4 separate regions of the Homo sapiens genome follow, and all the other regions are reported to be linked to region 1. The links are microRNA targets in miRTarBase. Many come from high-throughput screens and were not tested one by one. Region 1 holds a microRNA gene; each other region holds the end of a gene's coding sequence.

The links. Region 1 holds the annotated microRNA hsa-miR-505-5p (GGGAGCCAGGAAGUAUUGAUGU, at 5,026-5,047, opposite strand). A microRNA usually pairs through its seed, bases 2 to 8, with sites in the 3' UTR of a target mRNA and lowers its output. Matches are read on the target gene's strand: a 7mer-m8 pairs with bases 2 to 8, a 7mer-A1 pairs with bases 2 to 7 and ends in A, and an 8mer does both.
Region 2: miRTarBase lists CSPP1 as a target of hsa-miR-505-5p. The part of its 3' UTR that is shown has no 7-base or 8-base seed match.
Region 3: the mRNA of C5orf22 is a reported target of hsa-miR-505-5p. The part of its 3' UTR that is shown has no 7-base or 8-base seed match.
Region 4: miRTarBase lists ZNF280D as a target of hsa-miR-505-5p. The part of its 3' UTR that is shown has no 7-base or 8-base seed match.

Annotation. Positions count from the first base shown.
Region 1 is chrX:139,919,171-139,927,238 of GRCh38, forward strand. MIR505 (microRNA 505) reads right to left here and starts at 5,061; the gene lies at 4,978-5,061. The region is part of intron 1 of ATP11C (ATPase phospholipid transporting 11C (ATP11C blood group)); the gene reads right to left.
Region 2 is chr8:67,191,766-67,199,833 of GRCh38, reverse strand. It overlaps CSPP1 (centrosome and spindle pole associated protein 1), which reads right to left. Exons shown (of 31, transcript NM_001382391.1): 30 at 6,232-6,370; 31 at 3,220-4,452. The coding sequence ends at 4,241. It overlaps ARFGEF1 (ARF guanine nucleotide exchange factor 1), which reads left to right. Exons shown (of 39, transcript NM_006421.5): 39 at 736-2,176. The coding sequence ends at 900. Among named protein-coding and RNA genes, the nearest start is that of CSPP1, 130 kb to the right of the region's middle.
Region 3 is chr5:31,552,295-31,556,566 of GRCh38, forward strand. It overlaps C5orf22 (chromosome 5 open reading frame 22), which reads left to right. Exons shown (of 9, transcript NM_018356.3): 9 at 479-2,759. The coding sequence ends at 608. Among named protein-coding and RNA genes, the nearest start is that of C5orf22, 22 kb to the left of the region's middle.
Region 4 is chr15:56,623,692-56,631,759 of GRCh38, reverse strand. ZNF280D (zinc finger protein 280D) reads left to right here. Exons shown (of 22, transcript NM_017661.4): 22 at 1-1,584. The coding sequence ends at 262. Among named protein-coding and RNA genes, the nearest start is that of ZNF280D, 110 kb to the left of the region's middle.

The DNA.
Region 1 (8,068 bases):
AGGCAGACATGGCAGTGAGCCGAGATCACACCACTGCACTCCAGCCGGGGCGACAGAGCAAGACTCTGTCTCAAAAAAACACACACATGGCTGGCGTAGTGGCTCTCACCTATAATCCCAGGAAAACCCTATCTCTACTAAAAATACAAAAATTAGCTGCGTGGTGGCGGGCACCTGTAATCCCAGCTACTCAGGAGGCTGAGAAGAGAATGGCTTGAACCCGGGAGGCGGAGGTTGCAGTGAGCAGAGATCGCAGCACTGCACTCAAACTTAAACACACACACACACACACACACACACACACACACACACACACACACACAAACTACTTATTTAAGTGAGGAAGAACTGAAGAAAGCAGTTTGGTAGTTCCTGAAAAGTTTAAACATACAATTACCATATGACCCAGCAATTCCACTAATATATACTCAAGTAAAAACATATTCATTTTAAAAAGCAAAAAAATGTGCCAGGCACAGTGGCTCACACCTGTAATTCCGGCACTTTGGGAGGCCAAGGTGGGCGGATGACCTAAGGCCAAGAGTTCGAGACAAGCCTGGCCAATATGGTGAAACCCCATATCTACTAAAAATACAAAAATAGCCGGGTGTGGTGGTGCACGCCTGTTGTCCCAGCTACTCAGGAGGCTGAGGCAGGAGAATTGCTTGAACCTGGGAGGCGGAGGCTGCAATGTGCCATGATGGCGCCACTGCACTCCAGCCTGGGCAACAGAGTGAGACTCTGTCTCAATAAAAAAATAAAAAAGAAAGGACAAAAATGTTCGAAGAAACATTTTTCACAAGAGTCAAAAAGTGCGAACAACCCAAATGTCCATCAGCTGATGAACAGATAAATAAAATGTGCTCTCTCCATAAAACGGAGTATTCTCTGCCTTCAAAAGGAATGAGTCCGGGCGCGGTGGCTCACGCCTATAATCCCAGCACTTTGGGAGGCCGAGCCGGGCGGATGACCTGAGGTCAGTTCAAGACCAGCCTAGCCAACATAGCAAAACCCCGTCTCTACTAAAAATACAAAAATTAGTCGAGTGTGGTGGTGCGTGCCTGTAGTCCAAGCTACTTTGGAGGCTGAGGCATGAGAATCGCTTGAACCCAGGAGGCACAGGTTGCAGTGAGCCGAGATCATACCACTGCACTCCAGCCTGGGTGACAGACTCCACCTCAAAAAAAAAAAAAAAAGAATTAAGTACTGATACTGATACATGCTACAACATGAACAAATCTTGAAAATATTACTATGCTACACCAAAGAATTCAGTCACAAAGGAACACATATTGTATGATTCCACTGGCAATCCAGAGATAAGAAAGTAGATGGGTGGTTGCCAAGGGCTGAAGGATAGAGGACTGGGACTAAGAGCTAACGGATGGGGTTTCTTTTTGAGGTAGTGGAAATGTGCTGGAATTAGATAGCTGTGATAGTTACACAGCATAGGAAATTTAAATCCACTTAAGTGTATACTTTAAAGTGGTGAATTTTATGTTAGGTGAATTATCTCAGTTTTTAAAAGTGAATGAAAAAAAGTGAAAGAGAGAGAGCAATACCAGCAAAGTATTTAACCAGAAATCAGTCGAAAGTCAATGAAGTGCTCCTGGTGTGCGTCTGTAAAAGATCCCCCTGGAGCTGTGTGGAAGACAGATAGGAGAGGGCAAAGGTGGATAATAAAATAATCAATTGCAAAGGTCCAGGTAAATGACAGCAGTAGCTTAAACTTGAATGGTGGTAGGTGTGGGCATGAAGAAAGGTGGATGGATGTGACAGCATTTTCAGAAATAGAACCTACTGGATTCTCTGACAAATGTGATGAAGGGAAAGGTTAGTATTAAGTATGACTGCTAGGTTTTTAGCTTGAGCTACTAGGAGGGGGATGGTGCCATTTACTGAACGGGAAAACTGGAGGAGGAACAAATATGAAAGTGGAGAGATGCTAATGACTTAGACGAGGGTGGCAGTCATGATGATAAAGAAAAGTGGCACTGACTAAGCATGGTGTCGTGATGAACTGGTTATGAGGGTGATATGTGTCCCCACCCAAATCTCATCTTGAATTATAATCCCCATAATACCCACCTGTCAAGGGAGAGACCAGGTGGAGGCAACTGAATCATGGGGGTGGTTTTCCCCATGTTCTCGTGATAGTGAGTGAGTCTCACGAGATCTGACGGTTTCATAAGGGCCTCTTCCCCCCTTCACTCGGCACTTCTCCTTCCTGCCACCTTGTGAGGGTGTCTTGCGTCCTAATTGCCTTCTGCCATGATTGGAAGTTTCCTGAGGCCTCCCCAGCCATGTGGAACTGTGAGTCCATTAAACCTCTTTCCTTTATAAATTACCCAATCTCAGGCAGTTCTTTAAAGCAGTATGAAAATAGACTAATACAGAGGGAATGAGATGCAATTCATGTTCTGGTAAGTCCGAATGATGCAGTCAGATCTGAAAGTCTATCAAAAGCTTTCTTATCTAATAGCAGTGAACTATAAATGTGTTGGTAAGGAATGTGCTCCTGAAAAAAGGCCTGATCTCCAGCTTTTTAAATAAATGACCACTAGTACTCAAGAAAATGAACTGCCATCCTGTCTCCCATGTGTAGTGAAAGTTACCAGAAATGTGTACCCATAATTTAAGCAGGGTAACTAAGTAAGCAGTCCTATAATAATATATGAAGTAGTGTCATGATATATTACCCCAAATATATATTTCATCCTGGTCTCTGCCTTACTGTCTCTGCACCAAATAAGGCCGGGCATGGCAGCTCACGCCAGTAATCCCAGCACTTTGGGAGGCTGAGTCAGGTGGATCACTTGAGGTCAGGAGTTCAAGACCAGCCTGGCCAACATGGTGAAACCCTGTCTCTCCTAAAAATACAAAAATTAGCCAGGTGTGGTGGCACACGCCTGTAGTCTCAGCTACTCAGGAGGCTGAGGCAGGAGAATCACTTGAACCCAGGAGGCAGAGGTTGCAGTGAGCCGAGATTGTGCCACTGCACTCCAGCCTGGGCAACAGAGCAAGACTGTCTCTCTCTCTCTCTCCTTCTCTAAATATATATATATATATATATATATATATATATATATATATATATATGCATTTTTTTTAAATGACATAAATTTACTGGAGTCATAGGTTTCAGAAAAGAGCATCTATGTATGGGAAGATTCCTATAGCTATTGTTGTGGAGACCTAAAGCCACCTGTTTTTAGCATCTCCTTTTTTAAAATCAAAATTACTACAGCAAACGTAAGGCATTGAAGATCGAGGTTTTGGTGTTTCTGCTGTGTCATGGACAGGATGTTTGTGTTCCCCTAAAATTCTTATGTGGAAATCCTAACTTCCAAGGTGACAGTACTAGGAGGTGAGGCATCTGACAGGTGATCAGGCCATGAAGGTGGAGCCCTCATAAATGGGATTAGTGCCCTAGGGAGCTCATTTCACTCTTTTTCTGCCATGTGAAGATACAATAAGTCACCAGTCTGCGACGTGAAGCCCCCTCACCAGTACCCAACCATGCTGGCATCCTGATCTTGGACTTCCAAGTTCCAGGATTGTGAGAAATAAATTTCTGTTGTGCATAAGCCACTGAATCTATGTTATACTTTTTATTTGTTTTGTTTTGTTTTTTTGAGGCAGAGTCTCGCTCTATTACTCAGGCTGGAGTGCAGTGGTGCCATCTCTGCTCACTGCAACCTCCACCTCCCTGGCTCAAGCAGTTCTCCAGCCTCAGCCTCCCGAGTAGCTGGGATTACAGGTGCTCTCCATCACACCTGGCTAATTTTTGTTTTTAGTAGAGATGGGGTTTCACCATGTTGGCCAGCCTGGTTTTGAACTCCTGACCTCAAATGATCCACCTGCCTCAGCCTCCCAAAGTGCTGGGATTACAGGCGTGAGCCACTGAGCCCCACCTGTTATACTTTTTTTTATAACAGCTCAAACTCATTTGGGGTTGGCATGTATGTTCTCTAAATTGACTGGTTCCCATGCTTTAAGTACAACAATGACCCTGCACCATTGCTCAGGTAATTGCCTCCTCCTGTAATGAGACTGCCCATCCCTAAAATCTCAGAACCTTCAGCCCTTTGGGTCCCCAGAGGCCCAGTTGACAGGCTACTTCCTCCATAAAGCTCTCCCCAAGAAATGAAGCCAGAGAGCCAGTGCCTCCTTCTGAATGCCTACTGCACTTACTGTGTATGTCCTTCAAAAGGATGGCTCTGGTGACCTACTGGCCTTGTGTGGAGGATGGTCCTGTGTGCTGGTCTTCTCTCTCTTCTACCAAACTGCAGGCTACTGGTGAGCAGGGCTGTACCTTACACACCTCTACAGCACCAAATAGGGGATGAGTGTTCCAAGAAAGCTGTGATTCACATGAATGTTTTCAGAAAAGAAGCCAGAATAAATTGTACACTATACTATAGATCCCTTAATCCTTATTACTGCAAAATACATTAATTGTGAAGCTTAAAGAACGTCCCCACTGCTTACACAACAGGTGTAGCTTACATAATCTGCTCTACCCAGCTGTTACTTACTTGTGGCAATTCCCTCCTGGCTTCTACTCCCTGTCGATATGTGGGATTACTGCACCATCCAGTATGATTTCCTTATTCCTTGCTCCAATCATAACAAATTTGTTAATTTTCCTTTATAACAGTAAAAATGGCTGAAACTCCAAATAACCAGAGATATCCCTAGGGTTTTCCATGACTATAAAACTCAAAAGACAATCCAGGATATAAACCAATATTTGTAAATATTGCCATAAAATTCATTGCTCAGAATTTTTTTTTTCCTATATAGTCTTCTTTGACAAAATACTGCAGTATTCCCACCATTTGGAAATTGTGTTACCCAAAAGGTATAGAATGGGATGAAGTGATGATGCAAATGAGTATTAGGACTATGAGCAAATGAATGGGAGCAGTAACAAAAGTCCAAAAGTCAGGAAAAATGAAAATCCACGAACTTGGCGATGCTCCAGAGAGGAAACCAGCAAGTGTTGACGCTAAACTGGCAGAAACATCAATACTTCCTGGCTCCCCCACTGGGTGCATCAATTTACCACCGGCAGGCTGCTCTTCTGCTTCAAGTGACAAACAGTAAGTGCTTTCAATGACAGTATGAAAAGGAATGACCCATAATCTAGAAGCATGGCTATGGGCAGCAAAGAAAAGATGTGATTGCTGGGAGTCTGTCTCAGCTGTACTGCTGATTAGCTTAATGATCTTGGACAAGTCATTTCCTTTCACTGAAAAAATACCAGTGTTTCACAATATTTGCGTGATGGAAAGAGTTAACATAGCAGGCCTGACACTGCTATTCTTAGTAAGGCCTGTTTGCAAGGTTGGTCCTTGGCTGGTGTCTGGGGACTTGGATTTTGGGAGGGTTTCCATCACCCTGATAAGAGTGGCTCACTCTGCTTAAGCTGTGTAAACAATAGGGTTTACACTGAATACCTGCTTTCCTCCTTGGGGTCTGGAATTTTGCTGTGTACCAGGTGGAGGGTGCCTGTGTGACCAGCTCCCACTAAAAACCCTGGGTACTGAATCTCTAATAAGCTTCCCTAGTAGACATTTCACACAAGTTGTCAAAACTCATTTGCTAGAGGAATTAAGCATGACCTGTGTGATTTCAGTGAAAGAGGACTGGAAGCTTGCACATGGTTTCCTCCAGACTTGGCCCCAATGAGCCTTTTCCCGTTACTGACTTTGCTCTGTATCCTTTTGCTATAATAAATCACATCCGCAAGCGTTTCTATGTACTGAGTTCTGCCAGTGAATCAACAAACCTAGGCCGGTTTTGAGGACCTCTGTCACAATTGGTATAGTGTTGAATAGTCTACCAAACGTTTTTTTCAACAGTCTTGTGAAATAGGTATTATTATTCCCATTCTATCGATGAAGAAACTGAAGTTCAAAAAGGTGAACAGAGAGTGTGCCCAGAAAATAAATATTTCCGTGTTTACTATATTATATATTGCTGTTCTCAAATTTTAGTGAACCTAAGAACCACTTGGAATGCTTGTTAAAAACAGTTTCTTGGAGTCTGTCACCCAAGACTTGGATTCAGTAAGTTCAAGGCCCAGGAATCTGTATTTATAGTAAGCATACAGGATTATTATTATTTGAGATGGAGTTTTGCTCTTGTTGCCCAGGCTGGAGTGCAATGGCACGATCTCGGCTCAGTGCAACCTCTGCCTCCCAGGTTCAAGTGATTCTCCCGCCTCAGCCTCTCAAGTAGCTGGGATTACAGGCCTGTGCTACCACTCCTGGCTAATTTTGTAGCCCAGTCTGAAATGCATAAGCTTCTTGGTGGCTGCTTCCTAAACTGATCATTCTTCATCTGTTATTACTGACTCAGACTGTGTTACCAATTCAGCTCAAAACAATTAAACAAGTATTAATTGAACATCTACTGTTTACCTGATGCTGTGCTAACTGCAAGATCATTTTCAAGAACACTTCTGATTTTTCCAAGAATACCTTGGTAAAGAGAAAGGGACTAGGAAAACATTGCCACATTAATACTTTATGACAACATATAATAGAGACGTCTAAAAAACAAATGATGATATCTGCTTGAACAGCAATATCATCAACATCACCAATCCTCCCATATTCCATTAAATACATATGGCACAAGAAATCAATGATTTCTACTTCACAAATACAGGTTAACCTTCTAAATCTGGAAATCCACGGTCCATTATCATTTATAAATCACATCTTCTATTATCAAGAAGTCAGCCGACCCAGTAATCCGTCCATACACTGCAATAATTGAGGGGCTGTCTGCCAATGTGTGGGCATAGGGCATCCTGTGCCCATATCTGCAGTGCTGAGCACTCATTCATCATTAAGCTGCAGCAGTGTTAACATATGCTGCAGTTGTGCCAGTATGTTTTGTTTTACGATCACCGCTAATCTACCCTTATACCAGGCCAAGAAGGTAAATGTTAAGTGAAAGGAAATAAACTCGAGAGCCAGCACCTAATTCATTTGTGGAAGCCCAGAACCTCCCTCCACCTAACCAGAAAAACTCCCCCAGTCTCGAGGGTTCCAGATGTAAAAGGTTCATCTGTATAAAGCACTACAGATGTACAGGAAATTCCACCACCTTGAAGAAAAAAATAGTATTTTTTTTTTATATCCCATGCATTCACCCTCTTTGAGAGAACTGAATAACCATGTTAGACAAGCAATGAGCCTTGATTTTTTCCATCACTCAACAAACCAGTATTTGATTTCACTCAGTGGGCTAGTTCTTTGCACATCATGCAGACACAGCAAGGTTAGTTATGGTTCTTTCAGGGGCCACTGGCCATCCTTTACCTCCTAGAACCCACTGCTCAGCAGGTGGTAAACTGGCAGCTTTTTGAAAAAACAAGCTCTTTTGAACAGTTGCATCAATATAAAAATGGCCAGCTTCACCTGCCCAAATCTCAATTCAGCTAAAAGTTAATTAGGAACACTGGAAACTACCTGGTATATAGGCACTCAATATTACTCACTAAATGGCTGAATTATTAGCAATAAGCATAAACAAAAGGAACAAACAGTAAACACTTACAGAAAGTATTCAGGACACATTCAGAGTTTTATGTTGCTTAGTCACTAAAAGGTAGATCAGGAAAAAAGAAGACAAAACCTGCTTTCACTTGTGTAAAGATTTATTTCAAGTTACAGTGGTTCATTTCTAAATAAGTTTCCCACCTTGCGTGGGGTCAGCCTAGCATCTATTTGCAAAAGAGCAGTTTGCCATGCGTAGGTCAGATGAAAGGAGACAAATGCAAGAAACTCCTTTTTAACTGACATCCAAACAACCAGAAAATAACTGATATTGTACAATCTATTTTTAGTAGAAAGAAAAATGACAAGTATGTAATAGTAACTTATTCACAAAGATCAAATTTCATGGTATGTCACAAATGTATTCAATGCAATGCAGTTACCATGCCCTCTATATCTATAGTTGTGTATGTAATGATAATTACAGCTCAGGAAGACAGGAACCTTGTCTGTCTTGCTCATCTACGACCCCAGGATTGACTGCAGTGCCCAGC
Region 2 (8,068 bases), not on the chromosome of region 1:
TAGAAAAAAAAATAGCAACTTACAGCTCACACATACAGGCTGCTTTGCTGTGACCCTAGAATAGGTTTAAAAATGCCTAGTGATGTGGCCCACTACTTGAAAGGCCAAGGGCTCTAAATCCCAGCCTCTGTTACTCCACAGCTGGCTTTTTTTTTTTTGGTCATAATATGTCTCACTGCTTCCCTGGATCTGGAGGGGTACAGAAGGGGTAGGAAAGGAGGCTGCAGACTAGAGTTCAGAGATGAAGGAACTACTGTGAAGATACAGCCAAAGTATAGCAATTGAACTGTACATGTGAAACGTATGTAGCTTTGCCTGAAGAACTGTTTAGATTTTATATTGCAGTGTTGGGTAGAATTTTCCCCAAAACTTAAAATTTTTATGTAACAAAAGATAAAATTTCAGTAACCCATAGCTTATAAAATCTCAACTCTAGTTTGTACTCACTTGCCTGCTGCTTATTACCCAGGAAAAACAGTGCTAAATTACTAAAAGTTTGTCAAAGATATACAGACAAATGTTTTTCAAAATAAGGATATGTAAGTGAATAGTGTTTGTATGAAGTGAGTTTTTCTAACACTTCTGTCTCTCAGTTCCACAAACCAGAGTCACTGCCTGCTGTGGACCCTGCTTTCCTGGCTCCTGTGATGGAGCCCCAGAGTAGTTTGACTCTAGGCAGTTTAAGGCTCTGCAGTTTGCAATCACTACTAATGGAGAAATTCATTTTCCCTGCAGTTTAAAGCTCATGCATCATTCTACTACCCTCTCTTATGTGAAATTATGCAATTTGACTTGATTCCTGAACTTCGTGCTGTTCTTAGAAGATTTTTTCTGCGAATCGGAGTAGTTTTTCAGATATCACAACCACCTGAACAGGAACTTGGAATAAACAAGCAATGATGGGAACTTAATATTTTTGTTGGCATTTACATCCCTCTGCTCTTTAAAAGGACGCTGGAGCTGAGGTTTCCTACCTGAAAAATGATTTCTCTGGATTGCAGTGTCTGAGTTACTGGTAAAGATGCTTAGAAGTCTTACTCAAACTTGCAACACTCCAGTCCCTTTTAGTGCTGGTGGATTTTGTGTGTTATATTGGCCTCATGTTGAGCAGAAAGCCTGTTTAAACAGTGTCAGCTCATGCTCACGGGTCCTTCCCTGTCTTCCACGGCAGGAAAAGCCCCACGTTTTTGGCAGGTGTGGAAGTGAAACTTACCCAAAGAACTATAGATGTAAAGATTGAACTTCTACAAGAAGTACAACTCAGGAGAGCTGTATTTTGAAGGATAAAATGTTTATAATTGGGGAGTGGGGAGAGAAGAAGAAATTATTGTTCATGGTAAAAGATATTTAGCAACTATGGTATTCTTATTCTGAAGATTTTTGCACACTCAGGCTATCTGAGATACTGGTAATCATCCTGTGAAAAATGTACAGAGATGCAGGTCTGTAATATAAAAATCTTAAAACATTATATAGTTCTTCCTGCACTGTTTTCTTTATTTTCTTATTCATTTGCTAAATACCCATAATATTTTGTCAAATGCACTAAACATTTGGGTGGAACTTTCTTTTTTATTTTATAGGGATTTTTAGTTTTGCCCTTTTTGGTAGGTGGTGATTTTGAGGCTGTAACATGCCCAGAAGCTGTTGTGGCCGACACTTCAACAATAGGGAAAAAAAGGTAGAAAATATCCCTACTGACAGTAACTACCTGTCACATATTTCTCTTAGGACTTTTAAAGATGAGCCATTAAAATAGAATGATCCTTTATGGACCAAAACTTGAATCACTGCAAAATGAATCCAGATTGCTGTCATTTTCTTTTCTTTTGGGTGGTGGGGCTTGATGTAGATTTTACTCTATGTACAGAATTTAACGTTGAATATATTAAAATAACAAATCTGGCATGGTTTGCGGAGGTTAGATTTACTGGAAATGTATTCATACTGTGAATTGTGCTCTGATGGTTAAAAGACAAGATTGTCAAGCATTCCGTATTAACAGTGGATGTAGAAAATTTTTTCAGATGGACAAAATGTATATGGTACAGATGTAAAGTTTTCTATGTAAAAAATTCTGTACAACTTTCTGTACAATATTGATTCCCATCTGGCATATTCTAATCAGGTTATAGGTCAATAAAGTTTTTGAATTATTTCATCAGTGCAATCAAAACCTGTATAACCCACCCCCATGTTTCATTGATTCTGGTCTATTAAGGCTGAACAACTATGGAAAAGACATTTTCAGCCAGAACTACAAATTCAATATTGTTTGGTTCTGGTATTTTCTTTCCAGCTTCTAGCATTAGATCCTCCTTACACTGTACTTACCATAGGATACTTATTTTTAAGGCAATTTTTAAAATTTTTATTTATCTTTTAGAGACCGGATCTCACTCTGTTGTCCAGGCTGGAGTGCAGTGGTATGAGCACAGCTCACTGTAGCCTCAAACTGGGCTCACGATTCTCACACTCCACCCTCCCCAGTAGTGAGGACTGTAGGCACACACCACTACACTTGCCTAATTAAAAAAAAATTTTTTTTTTTTAGAGATGGGATCTCACTATATTGCCCAGGCTGGTCTCAAACTCTTGGACCTGAAGTGATCCTCCCAACTCAGCCTCACAAAGTGCTGGGATTATAGGCATGAGCCACCATATCCAGCCCAAAAATCTTTTAATATTTTTTGCATATTAATAACCTAGCATCAGGCTACACTACTTGAATGCTGAAAAGAGCTAAAGTTCTCTTCAGCACAGTTTGCAATATTGTGTGTTCGAGGAGTCAGTTGAAGTTGTGTGGTACATGGCATTAAACAAAAAGGGAACGTGTCAATATCATCTAACATGGTTGTGTTAAAGAGGAAAAGTATTCAGTCTTTGCTTTCACACCTCTCTTAGATAATGAACAGTTACTGAACAATGCATTTGTAAGTAAGTGTGCTGTATTTGTTACACCCAAGACAGCTCTAGCTGTGTTCAAGCCCAGCTGGATGCTAGAACTGCGAGCCACTGTGACCTTGCCGTGTGAGGGTAAGTGCTCCACACAACCTGGCAGTTGATTATTTTAATGTTGTAGTATCAGGACTCTTCCCCTAGAAGAGTCAGAGGCTTTCTTCTTACTTTCAGATGACAACAGAACAAATTTTTACGAGTAAAGCAAACAAACAATGGTCCGATTAGAAAATCAAATAAAAATTTACAAGTAGCCAAAACTCAAAATATCAGTAATTTAATTGTGGCAAATTTGTCTGATATTGTCTACCAACCGTTAATTACATCAGAGGAAGTATTATTAGAGAGAGAAGCAGTGCCTGGGGATGTTCTCAGCTGTCATGGTTCTGAGATTCTAATCTGAGTCAGAATGTCACAATTATTTGAATGACTCTTTCCTTTTTTAGAAGTATCACTTACTGAGTGATTAGAAAACTCACATGGACTCACTTATCCAAGGTTCCATGGTGGAAGAAGAAGACTCCAGTCTCTCTGTCCTTGACTCCCGGGTGTCCCCACCTCTATTCAACCTCTAGAAAACTAGTCTAGAAAGCTCCATAGTAGTTAAAAAGATTTTAGTAATTAAAATAAAAATTTATTTATATCAAGAAGTAGTTACATCATGTAATTAGTAACAAGACAAATGCCTTCATTGGCATAAAAATAGAAGCAGAAAGATGATGTAACAAACATTTAACGTATGGCTTACAAAAATACAAGTAATTACAGTTCCCTTCATTTCTGCTGTATCAGTAGCTACAAATGACATGAAATAATAATTAATTAATAGGACATTTGATTGCATCACACAGAAACTGGAATAATCACAGCTACAATAGATGTACCTACTAAATGAATTCTTTTGCATCGAGGTAACAATGGAAAATGTGCATGTAACAAAGGGGAGTCCGGTTTTACAGGACGTTTAAGACACTTATTCACCTTATCTTAATGACAAGCAGAATTCAATATAATGCACATATAGTAGTTCAATCCAGTTCATTACCACCCTAATTTATGACAAAACTGTGCAAAAATAATCTATACAATTCTATTATATAAATCAATAATCATGGCCTTTTATTTATGTACATAATATACATCATGATAAAAATAATTTTATATACAGATGATGGAAAAAAAGTAACTTTCAGGTAGGGGCCAAAAGTAGGACATATTAAAGGTACAGATTTACCATTCCTTTCACCTTAAAAGGCACTACTGGGTCCAGTACAGGTTTATTTTAACCATGTGCAGTCGACAGGCCCTGCCAAGTGAAAGTGCCTGGTTTTCCAGGAATCTGCTGCTGCTCCTGGTTCAGCTGCTCTGCCATGAAACGTTTCAGCGTTTCTGAAGTGCCAGGGCGGAGCCAGGGCTCAGTTGCTACAGAGTTTGATCCGTCATCCCCTATGTGTTTCATGATGTCATCAGGGTCAACCAGTGAACTCTCATCATCTACAGGAGGCAAGGGACACGTGGCTCAGGTAACACAGGTGGCAGGCAGGAGACATAAGCGCAGGTCTCTTGTAGTCCAACTCATTACAACTCAGCATTTCCCCACAGTCTCATATCCTGAACTCTACTGTTTGTTTGTTTTGGTTAGACTCACCCCACCCCACCCTATTTTAGAGGGAGGAGAGTGGGCCCACAAAGGCCAATTTTGTAAAACAAAAAATGATCAACTGAGTAAGCTGACTCCATGGCACTAGCAACCAGAGGGATTCTAAGCATATCAAAGGCACCTCTCCATAAAACAAAGTCAACAGGAGGAATGTAGGTAGTCTTATTTTGTAACTGTTACCTCAGGAGAAGCCTAATGGCTACACATAAAATTTCTTTCTTTTTTCTTTTTATTTTTTTTAAAGCAAGGTTTGGGGAATACTCTTCAACCTACAACACTGCTATAAGGAAATTATTAAGTTATTTTGGGAAAACACTAGTTGGCATGAGATTACTTCCATTCTTAAAACACCTAATCTAACAAGGCCGTGTCCAGTCAATGAAGAGGTAGCTCTTGCTTCATTCTTTAATTGAATCTGATTGATTGTACGCAACTTCTATCTGTATTTTACTTTTATTTATTATTAGGTATAATAATAGGAAAATCTGTCTTCCTACCCTGTGATATCATATTCTTTTTTTTTTTTTTAATTCTCCTGGTCTGTGAAGGATTGGTATGTGCAGTCAATCCACATAATAACAAAAAGCTCCTGTTTGAAAGGACAATGTTAAAAAACAGTGTAGACATTAAAAACCTTCTGAAAAAGATTCTTAAAATGCTATCTTCCCTCAAATATATTCCTGTTAAATATTAATTCAGTTTGTTGGGTCTAAAAGAAAATGCCTTATAGCTGGAAAGACATCCTTTCCTACTGTCCCATCAATTAACCATGTCTGCTTTGTGTTTGGTGTGGAATTACCACCATTAGAACACACCACACCTTGACTGCTAGATAGATAGTATATGAGTACAGTTTTAAATTAACACAGTATTAAAGGTAGGATCTAAAAAAATCTTAACAGATTATTGTAATGTAGATTAACAGACTAAAGAGTATTTCCCAAATAGACCACTCCAGTAATTTGCTAAAACTATTATTATTACCAATATGAAAGTGTCCCATTATCCCGGTGACTAATAGCACTGGTATAGAAAAGGGTGGTGTAGGGCTGGCAGGGTAGCTTGTTAGGTGTCTAAGGAACCATCCTGCCTTGTGCTCTATGACTAGCTTTAACCTGCAAGTCACAAAAATGCACTCATAATGAGGAGACGACTAGCTTTATTTGACTTCTGAGACTTTGTCCATGGTGTGGAAAGCCAAAGAAGAAGGTAAAAATTTTCTTTGTAGTACTGCAAATATACAGCATAAGTGTTAAAGAACTCAAAGTCTTTAGGCTAATTTCTAATAATGTTTTACTTTAGTAAAGTGATTACTATTATCATATAGCATTTTCTTTGCTGAAAGCAAAGCCTGGATATGTTTAATAAGCAAAAACTATTTTACCTGTTTAGACTCCACTCTAAAATGGGCACCCTCTCTGATAGAGAAAATCTGATGCAAACTGCATCCTGAGGTCTGGTTTTGCTCAATAGTTACTATGTCTTGGGCCATACAACTCAAAGGTCTTCAAACTCATTCCATCTATCCCTCAGACGTTAGTGAAAGCCTTGAGTAAGAAAGTTTAAAAGTTCATACAGGATTCTACTATAGGCCATTACACTTGGTCATTTACCTGTATTAATAGGTTTATTGTGAAATTCATTCAGTCTTCGCATTCGTTCCTCATTTCTCACTCTAAGCTCATCAACATTTACACTGGATATAGATTTTAGAGAGAGACCATCTGGTGCTACATTAGGACGACTGCTATCCTGTAGTTAGAAAACAGAACTTCAGAAAGTCATTAACACAAAATATGTTCACAAATCAGTGAATCAGGGCCAGGCATGGTGCCTATCACCTGTGATCCCAGCACTTTGGGAAGCCGAGGTGGGCAGATCACCTGAAGTCAGGAGTTCAAGACCAGCCTGGCAAACATGGTGAAACCCCATCTCTACTAAAAATACAAATTAGCTGGGCATGGTGGCAGGCGCCTGTAGTCCCCGGCTACTTGGGTGGCTGAGGCAGGAGGTGGAGGCTGCAGTGAGCTGAGATTGTGCCACTGGACTCCAGCCTGGGAGACAGAGACTCTATCTCAAAAAAAAAGAAAAAAACCAGCAAATCAAAACATCCTCTTGCCCTCAAATGTACACTGTGATGAACAAAATAAAACATGAAAATATAGAGCACGTATATTATGGCTCCTATGCTTATCCATGCAAGCTCAGATGACTCTCAAGGATAAGGAGTAACATTTGTGATGACAGAAATGCTGCCAGTCAGGATAAAGCTTGAGAATTATAGGACACAAAAGGAAAAAACTGAAGCAGCAGGGGCTTAGTCCAGCTATAATCAAGACAGTGTGGTACTGACATAAGAAAAGACATGTAGATCAATGGAAGATTAAGAAGAATATAGAAATAAATCCTTACGTTTATGGACGGAGTTAACAAAATGCAGTGGGAGAACAGTCTTTAAACAAATGCTGCTAGAACAACTGGATGGCCACATGCAAAAGAATGGACTTGGACCCCTGCACCTCACACCCTGTGCAAAAATTAAAGTGTATCATGGACCTACAATTAAGAACAAACTGAAAGAAAACAAGTAAATCTTCATGATCTTGTGGTTGGCAATGGTTTCTTAATTAAGACACCAAAAGCCCAAGAAAGAGTGATGAGTTGGACCTCATCAAAATTAAAAACTTCTGTGCTTCAAAGAACACCATCAAGAAAGTTAAAAAGATACAGAATGGGAAAAAAGATCTGAAAATCACACATTGATAACTAGACTTGTAGTGAGAATGTAAAAGAACTCTTACAACTCAATAAAAAGACAATTCAATTTGAAAATGGACAAAGGGCTGGGCGCGGTGGCTCATGCCTGTAATCCTAGCACTCTGGGAGGCCGAGGCAGGTGGATCACCCGAGGTTAGGAGTTCAAGACCAGCCTGGCCAACATGGCGAAACCCCAACTCTACTAAAAATACAAAACTTAGCCAGGCGTGTTGGCATGCACCTGTAATCCCAGCTACTTGGGAGGCTGAGGCAGGAGAATCCCTTGAACCCCACTGGGGCAGAGGGTGCAGTGCACTGAGATCACGCCACTGCAATCCAGCCTAGGTGACAGAGCAGGACTCTGTATCAAAAAAAAAAAACAAAAAAAAAAACAAATCAGCAAAGGATTTGAATAGACATATCTCCTAAGAAAATATACAACTGGCTAATAAACCATGAAAAGATGTTCAATATCATTACAGAAATGCAACTCAAAACCACCATGACACCACTTTACACTCAATAGATGGCTAAAATCAAAAGACACTAAGTGATGGCCAGGATATACAGAAATTACAACCCTCAGTGGATGATGGGAAGGTAAAATGGTACAGCCACTTTGGAAAAGTCTGGTACTTCCTCAAAATGCTAAATACAAAGTGTCCATATAACCCAACAATTTCCTTCTAGGTA
Region 3 (4,272 bases), not on the chromosome of region 1:
CCTTTATAATTTTGTAGTTAACAAATCATTTTTAGAAATAGGATCCTTTTATCAGTTGGAAAACCTCGACCCTCATCATTTCTAGCCCTAGCACACACATAATAAAAGATGTTCCATCGCTAAGATAATAAGCCCCTGTATTCCCAAGCAACATCTCACTTTCAGGCAAACAATGGTCTAGCAATCAAGCATTAAGGCACACACCGCATGTCACCTTGCACAGGTTAATCTCTTTCAGATTTCTTTAAAGGGATAGTAATTGTGCCTATTTCATAGAGTTGCTGTGAAAATTAAAGAACATAATTTATGTAAGGTGACTAACATGGGGTAAACCTTCACTAGCTTTCAATTGATATTAATCCAAAGTTCAGCACACCTTAATTTCTGTTTTACATTGAAATGAACACATGCAGCTTTTCCTCACAGTATGATTTTATCCTATGTGTATTTTTCTTCTTTCTCTTTCTGTTGGTTCTAGGTCAAGTCTGGATGATTACTGTCCTTCTGACCAAGTTGACACTATTCAAGAAAAGGTCCTCAATATGCTACGTGCCCTCTATGGAAATCTAGACCTCCAAGTGTATGCAGCAGAGTCTCCTCCATCTTGAAACAAACAAAACATTAGGCTCCTGTTGTATCTTGGTTTAGTAACAGGCCCTTAATTAACTTATTTGTACATGAGTCTTCCAGAGAACACTGTTTTATATTAACTTTCAGTTGAAATCTTTCAGATATTTTGAATCTCTGAACAACCATTGTCAGTTGTGAATGATGGTAAATTTTTTGGCATCAAGTCTCATAACCCCAACTGATAGAACTGTTGCTTATCTGTCTTCCTTAAGTATTTTTTAGGGTTTTGTTTTTTTTTTTGTTTGTTTGTTTGTTTGTCTTCACTTTTCCCCCAGGTCTGTTGAGCTGTATGAGATTCATTCATACTTCATTTATTCATTCAACTAATATTTGTTGAACACTTACATGTACCAGACATTATTAAGTGCTGGGTATATGGTAATGAACAGAATAGACAAGGCCCCTGCCCTTTTAGGGGAGACAGATGAGAAGTAAATTACGGGTTATGAGAAATGTTATGAAGGAAAGGACAACAACAGACATGTCTTAGTACTTAGGGTATCATGGCTTTATAGGAAAGTAACATTCTCTATCTTTTTTTTTTTTTTTAATTTTATAAAAATAGAGATGGGGTCTCACCATGTTACCCAGGCTGGTCTCAAACTCCTGGGCACAAGCAATCCACCTGCCTTCGCCTCCCGAAGTGCTGGGATTACAGATGTAAGTCACTACCCCAGCCAGAAACTAACATTCTCAAAAGCTACTACCAAAAAAACCCCACAAATTTGCCAATCCATGAAAGTATCATAGGAAGTCTACCTTTCCAAGGAATTTGGCATTGTGGCCCTGCTCTTGCCAAATGCTCTCCAGCATTGTTGGTATCAAGGTGGTCTGGTTGAGTAAACTTGACCAAACAAAAATTAACTGTTTTTTGCTTTTCTGTTTTTGTTTTGCTGATCAAAAAAGCCCTTCAGGGTCTCTTGTGCATCCAGGAGGTCATTGTAGATATCAATAATATAGTGCCTAAGTGCCACTTTATTGCCAAGTCTAGATTGATACTTTTTTCAGATAAACCAGCTTTTTATGTAAAGAGTAAGGGAAAAAGTTAAATCTTTAATTCTGACCTGCCATAAATACCCAAAGATATAAACTGTCTTCCACCACCCCCCTCATAACTAAGACATCCTTCCTGAGTCACTCTTAATCATGAAACTTGATTTTCTCAATTGGCCAGTCTTCTGATCTTTAGTATCTCTTTAGTTCAGTAATTTTTACCTACCTACTTGATTTATTTTCCTTTAAAAGGTGAAATGACATTTAAAGAAAAACAAACACCCATCATTCCTCAGTCCCAACACAGCAGTTCTTTTCACTCTTGCTTGTAACTTTCAGGCCTTACCCACATGTGTTCCTATAGAGTTGCATGTAGCTAAAATTATAGTGTGCTGCCTAACTTTGTGCTAATAACGAAGGACACACATTATCATTGCCTCACAGTGGATGGCACCTGACCCCATTTTTCCAAGGATTCTATTTTCCAGTGAATTTTTGTCACCGAGTTAATTTCCCAAGTCTGATAGCATGAATGCTTATTTGTGCTGTGAAAAGCAGAGCAGCCTGACTCAGCTTTCCATTTTCATAGGATAATATGTGCCAAAAAAGGTTTATTTTCTTGGTAAAATCAGAATTGTAGAATTGTGCTATTTTTAATTTTTAAAATTTTTGGTTAGAGCTTATAGACATTACTTTTATGATTATTTTGCGTGCTAAATAAGTTAAAGGGTATGTTTTGAACTATAGCACTAATTAATGTGTGTGATCCTAGTATGTTGATAGCTTTGATTTTGTGAGTGGTTTACTAGTCATTTATTATGATTCCCATGAACTCTGATATGATTCATTGTGGTTTTAACTCAGGTTGAATAAAAGCATCCATTTCTTTTATAGGAAGGTTTGTTTAATTCTCATGTTCTGTGATCATCTCTTTGAGAATAAAATTCAGTCCCTAATAGTTGAAAAGAATCAACTTAGTAAATTATGTCTTGCACATTCCAAATAGGAAGGTATTTACTTTATCAAGATGTGTTTCATTTGTGTTCTGAGTACCAGTGAGGGGATACCGTGGTACAGTGTTTTGAATTGTGTACTAATATCATTAAAGCATGGGATTTTAGTGGCTTTTTAAAAAATGTGACTTAAGTGTAAGCGTAGACTTTAACTTAATAAGTTGTGTATTTCCTAGTATCTACGGGGAAAAAATTTAAGTCCAGCCTTTCATAATAACCTTTTGACTGTCAATTTTAGATCTCTTTAGAAACATTTCCTATAGTTGGCCATGCGCGGTGGCTCACGCCTGTAATCCCAGCACTTTGGGAGACCGAGGTGGGCGGATCACGAGGTTAGGAGATCGAGACCATACTGGTTAACACGGTGAAACCCCGTCTCCACCAAAAATACAAAAAAAAAAAAAATTCTCCAGGCGTGTAGGCAAGCACCCGTAGTCCCAGCTACTCCGGAGGCTGAGGCAGGAGAATGGCGGAAGCCCAGGAGGCGGAGCTTGCAGTGAGCCAAGATCGCACCACTGCACTCCAGCCTGGGCGACGGAGACAGACTCTGTCTCCAAAAAAAAAAAAGAAAGAAATATTTCCTATAGGCACGGGTCTTTATGTGTTCTAGCTTCTCAAGGAGCTCTTAGTCAATGTCCTTCACACTTTTTTTTTTTTTTTTTTTTTTTGAGGTAGGGTCTCGCTGTGTTGCCCAGGCTGGAATGCGGTAGTGTGATCTTGGCTCAGTGCAGCTTCAACCTCCTGGGCTCAAGCGATCCTCCTACCTCAGCCTCCCAAGTAGCTGGGACTACAGGTGTGTGCCACCATGCTAGGCTTTTTATTATTATTATTTTGTAGACATGAAGTCTCACTATGTTGCTCAGGCTGGTCCCAAACTCCTGGGCTCAAGCAATCCTCCTGCCTCAGCCTCCCGAAGTGCTGGGATAACAGGCGTGAGCCACCATGCCTGGCCTCCTTCACTCTTTTTATGATAATCTCTCCTAGTCTTGACTTTGTTTTCGCAGCAGTGGCCCTGGCTTGCTGGTAGTAAATTCATCATACTGCCAGTAGTTTATAGTCAGTGGTGTGTTTCTCAGTACAAGATTCTCTCATTCACCATACATCTCAAGAGAGAGCACTTCAGTGAAACTTCAGGAGTTTTTGTTTGACATCTTTCAGAAATGCTTGACATACAGTCTTGCCTTCTCAAAGTATAGTGATACTTTGCTGAGAATCAGCATTTTTTATTGTAATTTTTTTTTTTTTTTTTTGAGACGGAGTCTCACTCTGTCGCCAGGTTGGAGTGAAGTGGTGCAATCTCGGCTCAGTGCAAGCTCCGCCTCCCGGGTTCATGCAATTCTGCCTCAGCCTCCCAAGTAGCTGGGACTACAGGTGCATGCCACCACGCCCGGCTAATTTTTGGATTTTTAGTAGAGACAGGGTTTCACCATGTTGGCCAGGATGGTCTCGATCTCTTGACTTCGTGATCCACCCGCCTCAGCCTCCCAAAGTGCTAGGATTACAGGCGTCAGCCACTGTGCCCGGCCTATTGTAAACATTTAAGATGTACGACATGATGTTTTGATATACATAGTAAAAAGGTTACTATAGTAAATCAACATATCCACTTCTCACATAGTTGCCCTTTGTGTGTGTG
Region 4 (8,068 bases), not on the chromosome of region 1:
TGATCAGTTTTTGAGAAAAAGACATGAACCTGAATCTGTTAGTTCTGATGTTAGCGAGCAAGGCAGTATTCATTTGGAACCTCTGACTCCATCCGAGGTACTTGAGTATGAAGCCACAGAGATTCTTCAGAAAGGTAGTGGTGATCCTTCAGCCAAGACTGATGAAGTAGTGTCTGATCAAACAGATGACATTCCTGGAGGAAATAACCCTAGCACAACAGAGGCAACAGTAGACCTGGAAGACGAAAAAGAAAGAAGTTGAAATTAGTCATTTTAAGTTTCAGTGTACCAACGATAAGGGCATTTGGAACAGTGCTATCAGGTGAGCTCAGTGGTGCTGTTGTAGGTTCAGAAATGGAAATATGTAAGGGAGGTCACACATACACTTTACCTGTATGTTCAACCTATGTTATCAAACAAATCAATTCACCAATAATAGCATGATTAGTAGGGATTCCCAAAAAGTTTTTAAAAACACGAACAGGATTTTAATGATAATTAAATTTGCAGTGGAAAGGTCTCATTTAATGGTTTTCAAGGAAATGGGATTTGGTTGCTGACATGAATTGATGATATTAGTAATATTTATAAAGCCTTTCAAACTTCCATCAATCCTAAGCTAAAAATCTTTATTACCTGTATATCCTTTTCAGTTAACTGAGAGGAAGGGATTTGGAAACCATGTACTTTTGGGGAGTAATTGATTAAAAACAATGGCTGATTGGCATTGTTAATGAAGGCTTTATTTGTGAGGATGATGCTGGTAAATGGAGCATGCTTAGAGTACTAAATTGATCTAATGAGAATTTGGATGAACATAAACTTAATTTTGGATTTAATATAACATTCCAGTCAGACGCATGTAAACAGAATATTTGAATCTTTGTACCTCCATACAAGTGTTAGCCTGCCAGGCTGTAAGCTTACCTTAATTAAACTTTCAGTGAAAGTGGAATTATTAAGATATAAATTTATATTTGTGCTTTTTGTCAGTGTGTAAGCTGTGTAGAAATTCTTTGATGTATTAGTTGTATTAATGTAAAGTAGAAACCCATTGTTGAAACTCCTGTAGCTATTATGCTTTTAATATTGTTTTAATGATCTTCCTTAGAAATAGGCCCATAAAAATGGTCTGGAAGCCAAACCAAAGTATGGTATAATGTAGATATTGTAAAGCAGTAAACTGAAAACATGTCCTGGCATGTATTCAGCCATGTTTAAGTGACTTTTCTGTAATTGTAAAATAAAAACTTCAAATGGGACCTAAAACAGTGATGTAAAAGAACTGGTTTTGGAAATTTAGCCTAATTTATCTATAAGATGGCTGCTAAATTGATTTTTCAGTTCTTTTTATCATCTAGAATATAATAGATATAGAAATGAATAATATGAAGAACAGTAGTTTGCTTTGAAATACTAATAAACTTTTATTTAAAATGCTTCATTTTTACTTCTTAAAATGTGCTTTGGATTCTTAAATTTTGTTTCACTGAATGTTCAATGTTTTAAATGGCGATTAAAATACTCTGCTGTATATAGTAGTTTTTGAGTAAATATTTGCAATAAAAATCTGCCCCCGAATAATTCTATTTTTCCAATCACTGCTTGATTCAGATTACCTTTGGTGCCTTTAGAAATTATATACTTGTTCAAGAAATTTAATATCAGTGTTAGTGGTGAGGATTCCATTCTACATTCTTTAACTGCTGATACATTATTTTAAATTAGGACTTAAAGTACAGGGGACAATATTGCTAATATTTATGAGAATAGATTTGCTTTATAAATTCTTTTACTTCAAGAGAAATAGAATTTAATATTATACTTTTCTATCTGCCCAACAATTTAAAGAGGCTAAATAGGCAAAATATATTATGAATTATTTGGAGTATTTTGGGGAGGAGAGCTAATATTTTTATCTTTCCTGCTCCCAAGAAAAGATAGGGAGAGAGGGAGCCATTAGCTCTCATCCTTCACCTTGTTAAAATGTAATTCTGTATCATGGAAGATTTTTGGAATAATATAAACCTTAGAAGAGCAGGGTTAGGAAAAACGCCTGTCTCTATAAGGACCACTTGTGAGTCTCATTCAGTCTGTTGCCACATTATCACATTATGACACCATAATCCCTTTGGAGCTTTGCTACATCAGCCCCCATATACCTTTTGAGTAGTGGTATTCAAAGTAGCAGGTCAATGAACTGTTTGTACCTATATACTATGAGAAAAGGAACCTATACTGGACTGTAAGTGCTTCATTGAGAAAGTCTGGCAATGAAAAAAAAAATAGCTGAATTAAGAATTGTATTTGGTACCATAGCTGGTTTACATTCTCTTTCAATCTCCTTATCTCCAATCAGGAACAACCAATCCAGGTATGCAAACCAAACCTTTGGTAGCAGTGCTTTAGAGCAGCGGTTAGGAAACCTTCTCTACAGGGCCAGACAGTAAATAATTGTGGGCCATGTGCTACAATTACCCAACTCTGCCTTGTATCATGAAAGCCACTGTAGATGATATGTAAATTATGAACCTATTTGTGTTCCAGTAAAACTTTATTTACAAAAATAGGATGTTGGCTGGATTTGGCCCATGGACTATAGTTTGCCTACTCCTGCTTTGTAGTGCTTAAACTCCTTTGATAAGAATATGAAAGCCAGTGATGCACTCTAGTGACTGCCTAAGAACTATCAAGACACCTTAGTATGTTATAGTTCCCTGTTAAAACAACGGGATTATGGTGGATTATAAGTGCAGTTTAATAACATCAAGAATCATTATATTTATTTTGTAGGATGCACTGCTAATTTATATTGAAAATCTGAATACCATATTTATTTGTTATTTCTTCCCCTTTCCATCTCTTCAGTGTTTTAAGGAAGAAACTATAAATTTTTTTTACCCCATGAATTTTTAAAGAACTATTCTAAACATTTGTTGAAAGAAACTAACAAGAGGTGAGTCACTTTATTTTGGTTAGAAGTAAAAAGATAAGGAAACCAAATATCTGGGCAATTATTTGGCTAGGGTTACAAAGCCTAGATTTGAACCCAGTTTGATCTGATTCTTAAGTTATTGTTTTTCCATTACATCTAGTTACTAGCATTTATATTAAACATTTCCTTTTAAAATATTTCTTTTTTTGCAAATAATCCTCCTATGGATGATACTAATTGTAATTATAACATCTTCAAGAAATGAGATATGTTGGGTGAAATTACTTTTATAGTTAGCTCTAGCTAACTTTTAATTGCTTGTTAAATGCATATGGAATCAAAGACTTCTTAACCTGAAGAAAGGGGATTTTTCCTCAAGGAGTTGTGAATCATTTTTATTAATAGGCAAGATAGTATATCATGTAAAGATACACTTTATAAAATAATTATTGAAGTTTTAATATCGTTACATTTTTGTAGGCTTCTGTTAGGTCATTGTTTGACTTCATGGTTGACAAGACTACTTTTTATACTATAATGAAATAGGAAGTTTGTATGCACTAGAAGAGGATTGCAAGTGTTTTATTTTTACTAGACTATTACAACAGTAAGACTTGTTTACTCAGCTAAGAAGTGAAACAGTTGATTTACCTATTTCTAAACTTAAGAGGAAAAACAATTATCTTTTAAGTACAGTTATGCGCCACATAATGACGTACCCCATGTATGATGGTGGTCCAATAAGACTATAATGAAGCTGAAAAATTACTCTTGCCTGGTGACATCTTGATAATGCTGACCCCATGTAGGCCTAGGCTAATGTGTGTGTGTCTTAGTTTTTTTAAAAAAAGTTTAAGAAGTAAAAAAAATTTTGTTTAATAGTAAAAAAAGGTTATAGAATAGGATATAAAGAAGGTACTTTCGTGCAGCTGTAAAATGTTTGTGTTGTTAGCGAAACGTTACTACAAAAGAGTCAAGTAAAAGGCCGGGCATAGTGGCTCACGCTTGTGGTCCTAGCACTTTGGGAGGCCGAGATGGGCAGATCGCTTAAGCCCAGGAGTTTGAGACCAGCCAGGAAAATGTGGTGAAACTGCGTCTCTGCAAAAAATAATAAAAAAAAATTAGTTAGGCATGGTAGCACTTGCCTGTGGTCCCAGCTATCCAGGAGGCTGAGGTGGGAGGATCACTTGAGCCTGGGAGTTCAAGGCTGCAGTGAGCCATGATCAAGCCACTGTACTCCAGCCTGAAGGACAGAGCAAGACCCTGTGTCAGGAGTCAAGTAAAAAAATTTTAAATATATAAAGTAAAAAAGTTATTGTATGCTAGGGTTTATTATTGAAGAAAAACATTTTTAAATTTAGCCCAAGTGTACAGTAATGTCCTAGGCCTTCACAGTCACCATTCACTGACTCATCCAGAGCAACTTCCAGACCTGAAAGCTCCATTGATAGTAAGTACTCATAGGTGTACAATTTTTATCTTTATACTATGTTTTTATTGTGCATTTTCTATGTTTAGATAAACACCATCGTGTTATACTTGCTTACAGTATTTAGTACAGTAACATGCTGCCCAGGTTCGCAACCTAGGAGCAACAGACTATGACATATAGTCTAGGTGTATAGTAGGCAATACCATCTAGGTTTGTGTAAGACCACTCCATGATGTTCACACAACGCTGAAATCGCCTAACAATGCACTTCTCAGAATAGATCCCTGTCATTAAGCGATGCATAACTATTTTTTGACTGATGCACATCTGCAGATCAACGTAGACAAAATGAATAGATTTTTGAAAGCCATGACAATATTTAATTTTCAACTTGAAAGCTTCAAATTAAAAGATACACTCAGATCATTTGTGAGGAACTAAACACATCTGTAGCAACAACTATAACATCTTTAAGAAATGAGATATGTTGGGTGAAATTACTTTTATAATTAGCTCTTGCTAACTTTTAATTGCTTGTTAAAAGTACCGTAAAATTGCCTTTATTTTTAAAAAATATATTACACATAATTTGGTCTTCATTGATGGCACAGTGTGCCATTATTATGAAGATTATTGGGCCACACTTTAAGGGATGCTGTAGCTGCAGAAGTTAATGGCTTGAAAGATAGTTGATCACAGAAGTTACCTTGGATTTTGGTTTCTGGAAAATGCCCCAGGTACATCTAGGATCATTAGACTTTACCAAAAACAGAATAGAAAAATTGACTGTATTGCTGATTCACTCCAACATCTTTCTTAAAATGACTTTTCTCCCCGAAATATTAAAGTAAAGCATGCTGTTTGTGGAGATTTGGAGAAGTATAAAGTATGCTGTTAAACTTTTTTATTTTTTGAGATTGAGTTTTTGCTCTTGTTGCCCAGACTGGAGTGCAATGGCATGATCTCGGCTCACCGCAACCCCCGCCTCCCAGGTTCAAGCAATTCTCCTGCCTCAGCCTCCTGAGTAGCTGGGATTACAGGCATGTGCCACCATGCCTGGCTAATTTTGTAGTTTTAGTAGAGACTGGGTTTCTCTATGTTGGTCAGGCTGGTCTCAAACTCCCAACCTCAGGTGACCCACCTGCCTCGGCTTCCCAAAGTGCTGGGATTACAGGCATGAGCCACCATGCTGGGCCAGTTTTAAACTTTTAAAATATTTCATCTTTATCTGGTGCCATAAAAACATTTTTTTTTTCTTGAGATGGAGTCTCGCTCTTACTCAGGCTGGGGTGCAGTGGTGCAATCTCAGCTCACTGCAACCTCTGCCCCTCAGGTTCAAGCAATTCTCATGTCTCAGCCTCCCAAGTAGCTGGGATTACAGGTGCCTGCCACCACGCCTGGCTAATTTTTGTATTTTTGGTAGAGACGGGGGTTTTGCCATGTTGGCCAGGCTGGTTTTGAACTCCTGATCTCAAGTGATCCACCTGCCTCGGCCTCCCAAAGTGCTGGGATTACAGGCGTGAGCCACCACGCCCGGCCTCCACTTCCTTAAAAAAATTTTGATTCTCTATATTAGGGGTTAGCAGACTATGACCCACAGTTGACCACCTATTTTTATAAACAAAATATTAGAACAGCCATACCATTTAATTACATATTGTCTCTTGTTACTTTTGCACTACAACAGCACAGTTATATAAGACAGAGACCATGTAGCTCACAAGCCTAAGTTATGTACAATCTGGCCCTTTAAGAAAAAGTTTGCCAGCTTTTACTTTATATTTTCATATAGTCCATATCATACCTTTATAACCATTCTTTAATTTTCATTATTGTAACCATTACAGTGGAACTTAGTTTATAAACTTGGTCCACATTTCTTACTATTTCGTGTTCTAGAATTACAAATTTGCAATTTTTTGAAGATTATTCAGTTTTTTAATCAAAAAATATTATTTTTTTTAAGAGACTCTCTTTGTTGCCCAGGCTAGAGTTCAGTGGCATGATCTCGGCTCACTGCAACTTCTGCCTCCCGGGTTATAGCAATTCTGCCTCAGCCTCCTGAGTAGCTGGGACTACAGGTGCACGCTGCCACACCTTGCTATTTTTTTGTATTTTAGTAGAGACAGGGTTTCACTGTGTTGCCCAGGCTGGTCTCGAACTCCTGAGCTCTGGCAATCCACCCACCTTGGCCTCCCAAAGTGCTAGGATTACAGGCGTGAGCCACCGCACCCGGCCTTTTTTTTTTTTTTTTTTTTTTTGAGACAGAGTTTCACTCTTGTCGTCCAGGCTAGAGTGCAATGGCACGATCTCGGCTCACTGCAACCTCCGCCTCCCAGGTTCAAGCAATTCTCCTGTCTCAGCCTCCTGAGTAGCTGGGATTACAGGTGCCGGCCACCATGCCTGGCTAATTTTTGTATTTTTTAGTAGAGATGGGGTTTCACCATATTGGCCAGACTGGTCCTGAACTCCTGACCTCAGGTAATGCACCCACCTTGGGCTTCCAAAGTGCTGGGATTACAGGCGTGAGCCACCACGCCCAGCCAAAATATCCATTATTATATTAACATACTCTTTATAGAAAAATAGTAAAACAATACTTAAGTATTTGTAGGTAAAAATGGAAAATTCTCTTACCACAATACTAGCGGAAAGCTTCTTGTCCTGGCATAAACTTCTAAGACTTGATGTTTTCATCTAGATTTTTTTTCTTCACCTCTTCAAAGTCAGTTTTATTTATTAATTTTTAAAAACCTAATGTGATTTTCATTCCTACAGTTCACCAAATATTTCTAGTATGTGTGGCCATGTAACTAGTTCCTGGCCAGTGCATTGTGAGTGAAAGTGGCTTCTGGTTTGGAGCATATAATTGTTGATGTGAAACTTTTTAGAATTTTTTTCGTTTGTCGTAGTGCTTTGTCATATTTGAGATGGTGATTGCTCCATCAGGCTGGGTTACTGAGGGACTACTATGAACAGAGCCTCCCTGTTTATTCAGATGGGCACATGAGAGAGAATGAGTATTTTTGTTTTAAGCCTCTATAGTTAGGGAATTTCTGTTTCTGCAACATAACCTGGCCTATCTTGATCAATACAGTCATGAATCGTGGAAGTGGAGTGCTACCATGAAAAAAAAACAAACTTAAACTATTACAGTGGCTTAGGTGACAGATGGTGTGGCTCCATGAGGTGATCCATATTCTGATGTGCGAGATTTGGTAAACTATTGCCTGTAATACTTGGAAGACATACAATATTCTTAATAAACTTGTATCTCTATCAGAAGACTTCGGATAACAGAATGTTAACAGCATGTTTTGATTACTGTATTAGCTGCATTTGACAAGATTTTTTTTTTTTTTAGATGGAGTCTTGCTCTGTCGCTCAGGCTGGAGTGCAGTGGCGTGATCTCGGCTCACTGCAACCTCTGCCTCCTAGGTTCAAGTGATTCTCCTGCCCCAGCCTCCTGAGTAGCTGGGACTACAGGTATCCATTACCATGCCCAGCTCATTTTTTTTTTTTTTTTGTATTTTTAGTAGAGATGGGGTTTCACCATGTTAGCCAGGCTGCTCTCAAACTCCTGACCTCAGGTGATCCACTCGCCTTGGCCTCCCAAAGTGCTGGGATTGCAGGTATGAGCCACCATGCCCGGCCTGACAATGTATTTTAAGAAAGAAATTAACTCAGCTGAGAAACGAGAA